Linked DNA regions of Homo sapiens: region 2 is linked to region 1. The links come from fine-mapping of genetic effects on gene expression. Tissue or cell type: monocytes after R848. Region 1 holds a variant in brackets; the other region holds the start of a gene. All regions are shown on one strand. Distances are from middle to middle.

What was found. PIP is the estimated chance that this variant, and not a neighbour inherited with it, causes the effect.
Region 2: DDIT4L starts here. The variant in region 1 is fine-mapped to the expression of DDIT4L in monocytes after R848 (Quach 2016, PIP 0.95).

Annotation. Positions count from the first base shown.
Region 1 is chr4:100,002,088-100,010,046 of GRCh38, forward strand. The region is part of intron 1 of H2AZ1-DT (H2AZ1 divergent transcript); the gene reads left to right. Among named protein-coding and RNA genes, the nearest start is that of H2AZ1-DT, 56 kb to the left of the region's middle. The variant T/G (reference allele first, on the strand shown) is at 4,260.
Region 2 is chr4:100,188,521-100,194,834 of GRCh38, forward strand. DDIT4L (DNA damage inducible transcript 4 like) reads right to left here and starts at 1,948. Exons shown (of 3, transcript NM_145244.4): 1 at 1,783-1,948; 2 at 1,373-1,512. The coding sequence starts at 1,463. DDIT4L-AS1 (DDIT4L antisense RNA 1) reads left to right here and starts at 1,513. Exons shown (of 5, transcript NR_125924.1): 1 at 1,513-1,554; 2 at 4,446-4,529; 3 at 5,226-5,322; 4 at 5,403-5,479.

The DNA of each region.
Region 1 (7,959 bases):
ATGGCATTGAATCTATACATTACCTTGGGCAGTATGGCCATTTTCACGATATTGATTCTTCCTACCCATGAGCATGGAATGTTCTTCCATTTGTTTGTATCCTCTTTTATTTCCTTGAGCAGTGGTTTGTAGTTCTCCTTGAAGAGGTCCTTCACATCCCTTGAAAGTTGGATTCCTAGGTATTTTATTCTCTTTGAAGCAATTGTGAATGGGAGTTCACTCATGATTTGGCTCTCTGTTTGTCTGTTGTTGGTGTATAAGAATGCTTGTGATTTTTGTACATTGATTTTGTATCCTGAGACTTTGCTGAAGTTGCTTATCAGCTTAAGGAGATTTTGGGCTGAGACGATGGGGTTTTCTAGATAAACAATCATGTCGTCTGCAAACAGGGACAATTTGACTTCCTCTTTTCCTAATTGAATACCCTTTATTTCCTTCTCCTGCCTGATTGCCCTGGCCAGAACTTCCAACACTATGTTGAATAGGAGCAGTGAGAGAGGGCATCCCTGTCTTGTGCCAGTTTTCAAAGGGAATGCTTCCAGTTTTTGCCCATTCAGTATGATATTGGCTGTGGGTTTGTCATAGATAGCTCTTATTATTTTGAAATACGTCCCATCAATACCTAATTTATTGAGAGTTTTTAGCATGAAGGGTTGTTGAATTCTGTCAAAGGCTTTTTCTGCATCTATTGAGATAATCATGTGGTTTTTGTCTTTGGCTCTGTTTATATGCTGGATTACATTTATTGATTTGCGTATATTGAACCAGCCTTGCATCCCAGGGATGAAGCCCACTTGATCATGGTGGATAAGCTTTTTGATGTGCTGCTGGATTCATTTTGCCAGTATTTTATTGAGGATTTTTGCATCAATGTTCATCAAGGATATTGGTCTAAAATTCTCTTTTTTGGTTGTGTCTCTGCCCGGATTTGGTATCAGAATGATGCTGGCCTCATAAAATGAGTTAGGGAGGATTCCGTCTCTTTCTATTGATTGGAATACTTTCAGAAGGAATGGTACCAGTTCCTCCTTGTACCTCTGGTAGAATTCGGCTGTGAATCCATCTGGTCCTGGACTCTTTTTGGTTGGTAAACTATTGATTATTGCCACAATTTCAGATCCTGTTATTGGTCTATTCAGAGATTCAACTTCTTCCTGGTTTAGTCTTGGGAGAGTGTATGTGTCGAGGAATGTATCCATTTCTTCTAGATTTTCTAGTTTATTTGCATAGAGGTGTTTGTAGTATTCTCTGATGGTAGTTTGTATTTCTGTGGGATCGGTGGTGATATCCCCTTTATCATTTTTTATTGTGTCTATTTGATTCTTCTCTCTTTTTTTCTTTATTAGTCTTGCTAGCGGTCTATCAATTTTGTTGATCCTTTCAAAAAACCAGCTCCTGGATTCATTGATTTTTTGAAGGGTTTTTTGTGTCTCTATTTCCTTCAGTTCTGCTCTGATTTTAGTTATTTCTTGCCTTCTGCTAGCTTTTGAATGTGTTTGCTCTTGCTTTTCTAGTTCTTTTAATTGTGATGTTAGGGTGTCAATTTTGGATCTTTCCTGCTTTCTCTTGTAGGCATTTAGTGCTATAAATTTCCCTCTACACACTGCTTTGAATGCATCCCAGAGATTCTGGTATGTGGTGTCTTTGTTCTCGTTGGTTTCAAAGAACATCTTTATTTCTGCCTTCATTTCGTTATGTACCCAGTAGTCATTCAGGAGCAGGTTGTTCAGTTTCCATGTAGTTGAGCGGCTTTGAGTGAGATTCTTAATCCTGAGTTCTAGTTTGATTGCACTGTGGTCTGAGAGATAGTTTGTTATAATTTCTGTTCTTTTACATTTGCTGAGGAGAGCTTTACTTCCAACTATGTGGTCAATTTTGGAATAGGTGTGGTGTGGTGCTGAAAAAAATGTATATTCTGTTGATTTAGGGTGGAGAGTTCTGTAGATGTCTATTAGGTCCGCTTGGTGCAGAGCTGAGTTCAATTCCTGGGTATCCTTGTTGACTTTCTGTCTCGTTGATCTGTCTAATGTTGACAGTGGGGTGTTAAACTCTCCCATTATTAATGTGTGGGAGTCTAAGTCTCTTTGTAGGTCACTCAGGACTTGCTTTATGAATCTGGGTGCTCCTGTATTGGGTGCATAAATATTTAGGATAGTTAGCTCCTCTTGTTGAATTGATCCCTTTACCATTATGTAATGGCCTTCTTTGTCTCTTTTGATCTTTGTTGGTTTAAAGTCTGTTTTATCAGAGACTAGGATTGCAACCCCTGCCTTTTCTTGTTTTCCATTTGCTTGGTAGATCTTCCTCCATCCTTTTATTTTGAGCCTATGTGTGTCTCTGCACATGAGATGGGTTTCCTGAATACAGCACACTGATGGGTCTTGACTCTTTATCCAACTTGCCAGTCTGTGTCTTTTAATTGGAGAATTTAGTCCATTTATATTTAAAGTTAATATTGTTATGTGTGAATTTGATCCTGTCATTATGATGTTAGCTGGTGATTTTGCTCGTTAGTTGATGCAGTTTCTTCCTAGTCTCGATGGTCTTTACATTTTGGCATGATTTTGCAGCGGCTGGTACTGGTTGTTCCTTTCCATGTTTAGCGCTTCCTTCAGGAGCTCTTGTAGGGCAGGCCTGGTGGTGACAAAATCTCTCAGCATTTGCTTGTCTATAAAGTATTTTATTTCTCCTTCACTTATGAAGCTTAGTTTGGCTGGATATGAAATTCTGGGTTGAAAATTCTTTTCTTTAAGAATGTTGAATATTGGCCCCCACTCTCTTCTGGCTTGTAGGGTTTCTGCCGAGAGATCCGCTGTTAGTCTGATGGGCTTCCCTTTGAGGGTAACCCGACCTTTCTCTCTGGTTGCCCTTAACATTTTTTCCTTCATTTCAACTTTGGTGAATCTGACAATTATGTGTCTTGGAGTTGCTCTTCTCGAGGAGTATCTTTGTGGCATTCTCTGTATTTCCTGAATCTGAATGTTGGCCTGCCTTGCTAGATTGGGGAAGTTCTCCTGGATAATATCCTGCAGAGTGTTTTCCAACTTGGTTCCATTCTCCCCGTCACTTTCAGGTACACCAATCAGACGTAGATTTGGTCTTTTCACATAGTCCCATATTTCTTGGAGGCTTTGCTCATTTCTTTTTATTCTTTTTTCTCTAAACTTCCCTTCTCGCTTCATTTCATTCATTTCATCTTCCATTGCCGATACCCTTTCTTCCAGTTGATCGCATCGGCTCCTGAGGCTTCTGCATTCTTCACGTAGTTCTCGAGCCTTGGTTTTCAGCTCCATCAGCTCCTTTAAGCACTTCTCTGTATTGGTTATTCTAGTTATACATTCTTCTAAATTTTTTTCAAAGTTTTCAACTTGTTTGCCTTTGGTTTGAATGTCCTCCCGTAGCTCAGAGTAATTTGATCGTCTGAAGCCTTCTTCTCTCAGCTCGTCAAAATCATTCTCCATCCAGCTTTGTTCCGTTGCTGGTGAGGAACTGCGTCCCTTTGGAGGAGGAGAGGCGCTCTGCGTTTTAGAGTTTCCAGTTTTTCTGCTCTGTTTTTTCCCCATCTTTGTGGTTTTATCTACTTTTGGTCTTTGATGATGGTGATACACAGATGGGTTTTCGGTGTGGATGTCCTTTCTGGTTGTTAGTTTTCCTTCTAACAGACAGGACCCTCAGCTGCAGGTCTGTTGGAATACCCTGCCGTGTGAGGTGTCAGTGTGCCCCTGCTGGGGGGTGCCTCCCAGTTAGGCTGCTCGGGGGTCAGGGGTCAGGGACCCACTTGAGGAGGCAGTCTGCCAGTTCTCAGATCTCCAGCTGCGTGCTGGGAGAACCACTGCTCTATTCAAAGCTGTCAGACAGGGACACTTAAGTCTGCAGAGGTTACTGCTGTCTTTTTGTTTGTCTGTTCCCTGCCCCCAGAGGTGGAGCCTACAGAGGCAGGCAGGCCTCCTTGAGCTGTGGTGGGCTCCACCCAGTTCGAGCTTCCCGGCTGCTTTGTTTACCTAATCAAGCCTGGGCAATGGCGGGCGCCCCTCCCCCAGCCTCGCTGCCGCCTTGCAGTTTGATCTCAGACTGCTGTGCTAGCAATCAGCGAGATTCTGTGGGCGTAGGACCCTCTGAGCCAGGTGTGGGATATAGTCTCGTGGTGCGCCGTTTTTTAAGCCGGTCTGAAAAGCGCAATATTCGGGTGGGAGTGACCCGATTTTCCAGGTGCGTCCGTCACCCCCTTCTTTGACTCGGAAAGAGAACTCCCTGACCCC[T/G]TGTGCTTCCCAGGTGAGGCAATGCCTTGCCCTGCTTCGGCTCGCGCACGGTGCGCGCACCCACTGACCTGCGCCCACTGTCTGGCACTCCCTAGTGAGATGAACCCGGTACCTCAGATGGAAATGCAGAAATCACCCGTCTTCTGCATCGCTCACACTGGGAGCTGTAGACTGGAGCTGTTCCTATTCGGCCATCTTGGCTCCTCCAGAATCTACTCATTTTTAAGTGACTATTTCATTTGGAGAAATGGTCATAAAAGTCAGTTAGCATTTATAATTAAAACTCAGCTTTAGTTAAATTTAATTGTGTGTGCAGCAGAGCATAGAATTCAATTTCAAAATCCTGAACCATATTTTATGACTTGTCTTCATTAGCAGTTATTGGAAATTTGCTATCTCTCTACATGTATTCCTCATTTAATTCCCACAACTCTAGGAAGTAGGTACTAGTATGCCCATTTTAGAAATGAGAAAGCTGAGACATGAATAGATTAAGAAACTTACCCTAGACCAGTGTTTCTCAAACTTTATGTGCAAAAGAATCACCCAAGAGTCTTGATAATTTGCAAATTCTGACTTGGTAGGTCTGGGGTGAATCCTGAGATTCTGCATTTTTAATCAGCTCCCAGGTCAAGGCCAACACTGTTGGCTTGTGGATCATACATTGTGTAACAAGGTTCTAGATTACATGTCCTAGGGTCTTAACACTGCCTGTCTGACACTGAAACCCATGCACATAACCCCTATGCAGAGTATGCATTGACTTTTCTCTTTACTACATTGTAATTTACTTCCTACAGATGAAACAGTTACATTAGTTCTTGATGCATATACATTTGTGATGCAATTTTACCCTTGAGGAATATCCAGGGAAGCAAAGCATTACTGGGACCATCATCCTCATCCTAAAGGCTCTCTTCTACATCTGCCTCTTCTGGGACCACAGCTCCCAAAAGGAAACATAGAGGTGGCAGTGGCAGCTGACAATTTACCTTATTCTTTGGAATCTCAGGGTTTCTCCTGCTCAATGAGTGCAGCCATTCAACTTTGACTTCTCCTCCTCGATCCTCCCGTGAATATGTAGTATATAAAATCATACTATGCTTCATGCTTTCTTATGCATGTTTATTTAAATATATATATTATATGCATGTGCTTTCTTTACTTCTCATTTTACTTGGTATTCACAGTTCATTTTCTTCCAGTAAGTCTTTTTATCCTATTCTTTGTTTGTATCCCCAAACTCTTCCTTTGTGGTTACGCTATAATTTTAATATTTACCAAAAAAGAAGATTCAAGTTAGACACTTTTCATATTATATTACTTTGGTTAAATCAGCCTGGCCTAGAGGATTTCCTTTTCACCATTTTCTTTCTCATCAGGTGAGGTAGTTTGACTGACTTGGTTTGTTCAAGCAAAAGGACAATGGGAAATAAATCTAGGTGTTCAGCATAAAAACAGCTAATGACAAAGCTATTTTTAGGGACTTCTTGTCTTTCCTATGTTATTCTTTATGTCTGTTTGATATCTATTTTCTGGCTCTTATCTTTAAAAGACAGCTGCTTTGCCTCAGGCATAAATCAGAAGAGGAAAACCAGCTTCTGGACCTGGAGAGAGGATGAAAGGGAATAGGAATTGAGGGAAGCGGAAGGGAAGAATAAGGGACCCCTGGAGAGTCCCTACCAAGCCAGACATAACAAACAAAAGTCCTCTACTACTGAGGAAGACAGAACAGGGAAGCCAGCAGGGGAAGAAAAAGATGCTGCTGCTCTTGATGCCTCAAAAACAGCAAGGAAGAACCCAAGCAACTGATGTACACACCCTTGGAACAAATCTGCCCCAGAAGTACAAGACACACTCTTCGAATTCATGGAATAAATGGGAGGTGAGTGTTCAATTCCAAGACACAAGACAGAATTGGGCAAGAGGGAGGAATGCTACTACTTGTAAGTCATAGTTACATAAAAACAGCAACCACATTGTGTTTTTCTGTAATGCTCTAGATCTGTGGTCCCCAATATTTTTGGCACCAGGGACTGGTTTCCTGGAAGACAATTTTTCCACTGACTGATGATTCAAGCACATTACATTTATTGGGAACTTTATTTCTATTATTATTACATTGTAATATATAATGAAATAATTATACAAACCATAATGTAGAATTGGTGGGAGACCTGAGCTTGTTTTCCTGTGACTAGAGGGTCCCATCTGGGGGTGATGGGAGACAGTATCAGATCATCAGGCATTAGATTCTCATAAGGAGTGTGAACCTAGACCCCTCGCATGCACAGTTCACAATAGAATTCGCACTCCTATGAGAATCTAATGCTGCTGCTCATCTGACAGCGGGTGGAGCTTGGGCAGTAAAGCTCTGTAGCCCTGCTGATCACTTCCTGCTGTGCGGCAGGGTTCCTAGCAGGCCATAGACTGGTACCAGTCTGTGGCCCAGTGGTTGGGACCCCTGCTCTAGATTTAAGTGTTTGTAGATGAAGCACTTTAGCTTTCCCGGAAAATGTATTGAAGATAAATTTATTCAAAGTTATCATACATTTAAAAAACCCCACAAAACTCTTAACCCCTGTAACCCCAGTAGGTTTGGGAGGCCGAGCTGGGAGGATTGCTTGAGGCCAGGAGTTTGAGACCAGCACAGGTAATATTGAGAATCTCTGCTTTTACAAAACAACTCTCAAAATTTTATATGTACACACAAATTTGGACTTCCTGAATTAACCAGTTAATAGATTTTAAAATACACATTAACCCAAGAGGTAAATAATTCATCAAAATTCAGCAAAAATAATTACTTGACACCAGATAGCTAGTTTTACATTTTCCAATTTTTTAGCCAGTTGCTAGAAATCACATAAACACAGTCTGATTTTTATAAATTTGGCTGAAAAATTGAAGGACTATTATCAATTTCAGTTAACGTTTCTTTTTAAAAATTAGCTTAAGTTTGATATTGAAAATATAAAGCTTTTTAAAAATTGAAATGCTGCATGAAAGGAATAAAAATCATGTTATAATGTTAGTAGAGTTCTCAACCAGCTCACTCATATTTTAACATACTCTTACCCTAAGGTATTAAAGAGTGGATTATTTAAATACAGGTAAATAAAAGTGATAGGAGTTACAGAAATGGTGAAAAGAGGGAATGCTAGCAATTTTGTGGTGGCCAAATAAAAACAATGTATTTATCAGTAGATAAAAATGTGCAGATTAATTCTTATTTTAGATATCTGTGGCAGCTAGAAGTACAACTTTAGGCTCTTCAAGAATGACAGTTTTGATTTATATTATTCTCCACAGCTCCATTTAAGTACACTACTATGCTCTCTGCATTCCTTTTCTCTTACTTGATGGCTAATAGGCATTGCCATTCCTTGATATCTCTCAAAGAAATAAAACTAGAAGGATTTTTAAGGAGCATAAAAATTCAGCTCCCAGCTGTGTACACACACCCATACACACACACACTCACACTCACGAAGTTAGAGAGAAGCTCATAAAAACAACAACAATAAAAAGCCAGGGAATGTATAAATGTAGAACCTGAGTTTCTACTGAATATTCTTAAACAGAAACTACTAAACTACTGTAATTGTTGTGCTAACAGACAGCACTGATGTCTGAGTGAGAGTTTAAATATATGAAGATTATAAGACTATAGATAAATCTGCATATATAGCTTTTTTTT
Region 2 (6,314 bases), 190 kb after region 1:
TTCTTTTCTCCTACTTGCTTATGGGGGTTTTCTAATTTTGTTTTACAGAAAACATGCATTACTTCTGGAATAAAAAGTTATAACTTTGTTTTTTGGACTAAGGGGTTGTTACTTTCTAACTGTAGGAATACATGTATTGTAAAATAAAGAATTTTTACTATTATGTTTGAAGAGTTGTATTAAAGCTTTAAGAGTTATATTAAAGATCTATCAAATTTGTGTCTTTAAGTCTTTACTGGAGTGGCCTGTAGGTCCCAATTTTAGCTTTAGCCTCTTTAATTAAAAATTGTGCAGAGAAGACCTTTGAGGTTCATGAGGATATTTGTAACCGGCTGGGTGGTTTTTCTTAGCCAAGCAAAACAAAATAGTCCTAGGGAAATAAAATTAGCTGGGCTCAAAGGAAAAGAGATAGCTCTGCATTTGGTCACCTACACCTCAAATTAATCCTACCCCTTGGCAGGATGCCACACCACACGGAGTCAAATGAACAAGGTGCAGGCAGATGCCCTCCCAGCTCCTCTCTCTAAGCCTACTCCACCTTCATCAGCCACTGGCTTTTCCTCTCCACTTCGTGTAAGTTTGGAGTTCTGGCCTGTAAATTAGGTCATCAACCACTTCACCTTGAAAGGAGAAAAACACGAAGAGCTTAAGCAGTTTATCTATGCTCTTACAGCTCTTTAGTGTCAGAGCAGTGTGTTCACCTAGAAACTGCTGTTAAAATTCCAAATGACAGCAAGTCAAGCACCGCTGCTGTTCAACAGTTTCCTTCTCACATTAAAAATGGAATAATGGATATATCCACGACTGAAAATCCTACTCAGTAATAAACAATAAACACGAACACACTGATTTAAGCAACGGACATAAAAGAATCTCAAAAACATTAGGCTGCGGGAAAGAAACCAGACACAAAAGAATACCTACTGTATGGTTCCACTTACCTAAAGGCAAAACTAACTTGGAATGATAAAAATCAGATCAGTAGTTCCCTGGAGTCAGGGGAGAGTGAGGAATACCTGGCAAATAGGTGCGTCGGAATTCAGGGGGAGGGGCGATATTGATTACAGGGTAAATACATTTGCTAAAACACACATAACTGTGTTCTTCACAATCATGTAAGATAAGGAACTTAATCCCAAGGGGCCTACTGGCACCAGACTAGAAAGATGCAGCCCTCGGGTATTCTACTTTTGCTACTTTTGTTTCTATCATGGAGAGAAGATGTTAGAAAATTTGGAAAGGAGTCTCCTCAGATGGATTTTGTGGCACCTCCTACATAGAGGTAGGGGAGGAAGTCGAAAGCCCGCCCACCCAATAGATCCAGAGGCACCGACCTTGGGAGGGGAGAAGGGTGGACAGCGGGGACACTCACCACTTAGCAGGCTCTCTGGGTGATAGCCACAGTCCAGCAATTCTGAAATGCTGGCCGGGTTCTTGCTGCTCAAACTGCCAGTTGCAACCATGGTCAACGGCTCTGTTTCCTTCGCGAGGCGCAACGGCCTTTCCTGAGCGCTGGAAAAAATGAGGCGAGAAGAGACGGATTTGCAAAAGCAGGCGAGTCGTGCAGAGGCTCCTAAAATGCCCGGCGTCCCGGGAGCGAACTAGCGGAGGAACTCCTTTGCCAAAGGGGTGGAACCGGCCTCTGCAACTCAATTTGACAAAGCCCTGGGAGCGGAGCCGCAACCTGAAACTAACTCAACAGTTCGCAAAACTTGGAAGCGACCTGCCCCGCGGAGCGCCCCCCGGCCCCGCTGCCCCCACCAAGGCCGCAGCTTCGCTCACCTGCCAGGAGTTCGCGGGGGCCTGCGCGCTCGCTGCCGGGTAAACACAGGCAGGTGGCTTCTTAGGAGTCCCCTCTCCTGGGGACTCGGTGACCTGCAGACCCCAGCAGCCAGCGGCACCCTGCTCACCCCTCCCGGGCCACCCTGCGCCGGCTCCTCGCAGTAGCATAGCCTCCGGGGCAGCGAGAACTTTATAGGTCCAGTCCCCACCCTGCTCAGGCCCGCCCACCTGCACCGCCCCTCCCCGGCCAGCGCCCCGCCCCTCCCCTCCAGAGTCTGGTCCCCTTTCAACCTCTACACTTCCAGGGAGCCCGAGCCTAGCCACAGGGAGTTGAGGATAAGCCTGTGGTAGAGCGGACACCTGTTGCTTCCAGGGTAGATCTCGGGCCACTGGGACCGCAATTCCGGGTGCACGACTCGTCAAAGCCTGAACCTGATTGTTCAGTGCGACCCCTCCCCGAGCGTCCGCGCTTTCACACTCAGGCTGCTCCCGGCAGCGGGAAGCTTTAAGCGATCTGTGCATTTCCTTGTCCTGGGGCTTTGCTGTGTCATCCTGAACACTTGGCTTAAATCTGTTGCAACGTCCACTGAGCATCATTTATGCACTTATTTCTGGCCTCTAACCCAGTCAACTCTACTCTGCCTCCCAGGGTTTCTGTATCCTCCTCTGCTGCAAGCGGTCAGATCTAGTTTTCCTTTCCCGCATCGAAGGCTCGCCAGCATTTTAAGAAGGGCCTTAATGACCCCACGCACTCCGTGGCTCCCTGGCATTCTTCGTGCACTTACATCTGTGGCTAATGCGTTTTCTTCGCAGGAAGGGTGAGCCTGGCACTCTTCTAATTAGACCTTGCCCCAGAGCGCGGGGAGCTTGAATTGAGCGGGAGTTTGCCAAGAAACACACAATACCATTAGTAGGATCTTAGGTACTCCTCTATCCGTGCATCGAGAGCAACTGTCATTTCCGGAGGCAGAAGTTTCTGGCGAGCCCTGTTGGGAGGATCTTTGGTTTGGGATATTTTGAAGAGGTTTCAGAGACTGAAGATAAAGAGTTTTATATTCTGCTGGGGATCAGCAGATAATCCCTGTGAGGGCTCCGTGCGGTCCTGCACAGGAACACACAGAGAGGCAGAGGAGCCCTGGAAAGAGGCAACATGCCCGCATAGCCCATGAGCAAGAAGCCAAACCTGATTTTTTTCTTCCAAAGTTATTAAGCCACGGTTTTCTCGCTTTGGTGTGCCAGTAGGAGATGATCTGTTCAGAGAGTCAGCTTGGGGTGCGTTAGGGGATGCCTGGAGGGAGAAGGTTGTTCCTACAGTAGAGATCCCAGTGTTGGCTCCCAGGCCCTCTAGGATTATGTGTAGAAGGATTTGCAGGTTAGAACCTTGAAAGGCAGTTTCAGCTGTCCTGGCATAAAACTCTTAGAAAAACAACAACAGAAGGGGTATAGAGGGTGTGATAAACAGATCAGTGGGAGGACATTCGGACGCAGAGCAGCAGAAATTAAAGCCAGCTTGACAGTCCATTTTTAACTCAGTTCAGGCAGCTGCACTGCCTGAAGGTCAGGCGAGCCAAGGAAGGAGATGCTGATAGACTGGTCTTTGAAGGCCAGTTTCCACTTCTACTTCAATAAACAGAAAAGTGGAAAATAAACAAGCCCATTTAAGCCAATTAAAAAGCGGTTTCAGTGGCTAGGGTGTTCAGGACCAATGGATGGGCCCATGGTCAGGAGTTGGATGCCAGCCGCCTGACAGTCAGTCCCTGGGCAGGCCACAGAGCCTCTTGTCCTTGTCTGGGCAGCATTACTAATGAGGCTGCCACTTAACCTGCCTCCAAGGAGGATTTTTAGAATTAATATAATGAGTGGTCTGAACCAATACTAGCGAAATAAAGAAATTACTCGTTTCAATTTCCTTAGGGTATTTAGGCATAATTCATAGAGTAAATGCCCCCATAGGGCCAGAAAGATTATTGGAACTTACAGAAAGTAGTAGTTGCTCTTGGCCCACCTGACTAAATGAAATTTTGCAAAGCCCTTTGGGATTTGACTTCAGAAAACAATTTACTTATGTACAAAAGACTTCAAATAATATCTTCTTGGCTGAATGGGCCTTGCTCTCAGGACATACAGGGCATAAGGAATGATTGAGGTAAAACACATACCTGGAATAATTAAGAATGTCCTTTTTTATCTACTTAAAAGCGTAGAAAATCCATTCTATCACCAGTTTGCATCTTCACAAGGTTAAACAGAACTGATTTTTTAAAAATTTGAAGCATAGAGAAGAATTAGGAAAAACTAAGTGCCATTATAGGCTAAGTGCAAGGTGACACAGTCTATCAGATTTCAGAAAAATGTGGATACAGTCAATTATTTATAACTGAAAGTTCGCATTGGGGAACTTCAGGTGTTTATTAAGTGCAGTGATAAAGAAGTTTGTTTTATTGCTCTTTCATTATATCCTCTAACTAATACTATATAAACAGTTTGTGGGAGTGCTTACTGGAAATAGTTGTGTATGAATAGAAAATCTAGTCAGTTAAATAATTTGATTTCCTTTCATACACCAATGTATTATAAGAAACTATCTAAATCATAGGCAAAGGCTTTAACTTAAGCATGCTTGCTTTTTTATTACTATAATTCACTAATCCATCTTCTTACAGAAAGAAAATGAGATAGCAGTAACAACTGGCAACCATATGTTCATCTGATGTATTTGCAAATATTTAAGTTCTAGGCTTCCTCAGGTATAAATATAGTATTCATAATGTCATTGCTTATGTAAAGTATAAATTCACAATGCCAGGGATACTGAAAAAACAAAAAGCAAAAATGATGCTTTCATGTATTATTACAGGAAATGTTGGTGTCTTTTGCATTTGTGATTTGGAGTGTTGAATGTTCATTACGTGTTTCACTAGCCAATTTTCTGTCTTTATTTGGTATGAACACTTATTTTTGAATCTTATTAATACATTTACGTTCCACACATAGCTTATTTTATTTCATAAACTATGACACCTGAGGGAAAGTTACTGAGTTTCTTAATCTGTGCAATTCAGGGAAAACTTACAGGACATGGAAATTGATCTATACATTAGCAGTAAGCTCATGGGGTTATTGTAAGGATTAAAAGAGAAACCCTTAAAATCAATGCTAAATATTATCTCTTTTTTATAAACAAATATGAGATCTTTAAATGCACACTGCCTCTAGATTCCCTTAGTTGTGCTAAGTTTGTAAATTTGGTGTCTCATGCAAAGTGCTTAGAACCAAACTAATACTGATATTAGGCAAGAACTTAATGAGTGATATTATTATTATTGCTGTTATTATGTTCTGAAATTGTAGTTATCTGGGTCAGTGCAACAAGCAAGTGGCTAAATGGAGTTGGGGAAGTGTTGTTAAAGTATAAGAAAATTTATGATCTTTCCTGTTTGCAGGAAATCTGGAAAGTATTGGCACTGATTAGGAAAGCCTTTTTTATTATAATACATCCATCACTGTATGGGAAAGCAGGAAAGGATCTGCCAATGAAACGTAAGAAAATAATGTGGGTAAAAAATTATCTTGGTGTAAAATACAGAGTTTTATATGTTAACTTTCCTCTATTAATCTAGGAAATAGTTTTCTGGAAATAAATAACATCTACAGACAATTGAAACTATTGACTATAGAATGACGCAGTTGTTTCAAGGTATGTGTGATCATCTGTTAACATACTCGGTGAGATATTTAATCATAATTTTTATTTGCCTTTGAGGGTGCATCACCCAATACAATTTCCATTTAATTATTAAATATTCAATATGACTTATTCTGTTAAGTAAGGTAACATGGAAACTTATCTCGTATAAGACAAAAAGCAGGCCCAATACATAAAATAATACATAATGCTTGCTATTAAAAGCTGAGAGAATCTTCCAATAACACAAGGGTTTGCCTCTCTTTTTAAGCAGAGAAATGGTTACCATAGCAACTTGTCTCTTAATATAGTTATATGATTTTGTTCTCTTCATAAACAATGCTGTGTATTATCAGTCTTTAAATAGAGATAATATGTTTAAATGCATACAATATCTGCTTTTCCTTAATTATGGAAAAATGTATAATTCAGGTGACCATATCAGAGGATGTCAGCCAGGAACATGGAGTGGGTCCTTGACATTTGTCTAGCGATACATCTTAAAACTTTTACAAGTTCCAAATTTGAGAATACCACTATGCCATACCATTTTTTCTGGAATTTTAATGTGCACCAGGAGATGAGGAAAATAAAGCTACATGCTCATGTCAATGTTGGGTTCCTTACTGGTTTCCCTTCCTGTATCAACCAAGTGTCCTATTTTGGTGGGCCAGCCTTGCACAGCTTTTGTCATTGACATTTGTATCCTAGCAAAATTACACATTACTTCATGACATAAACCTGTGGGGTTGCTTAAGAAGAGAATTAAATCTGAGAATGCCTGAGTGTCGACTAGATATGGAATTCTGCAGGGTACTTTTTAGAATGGGATCTGATCTCCATTCTG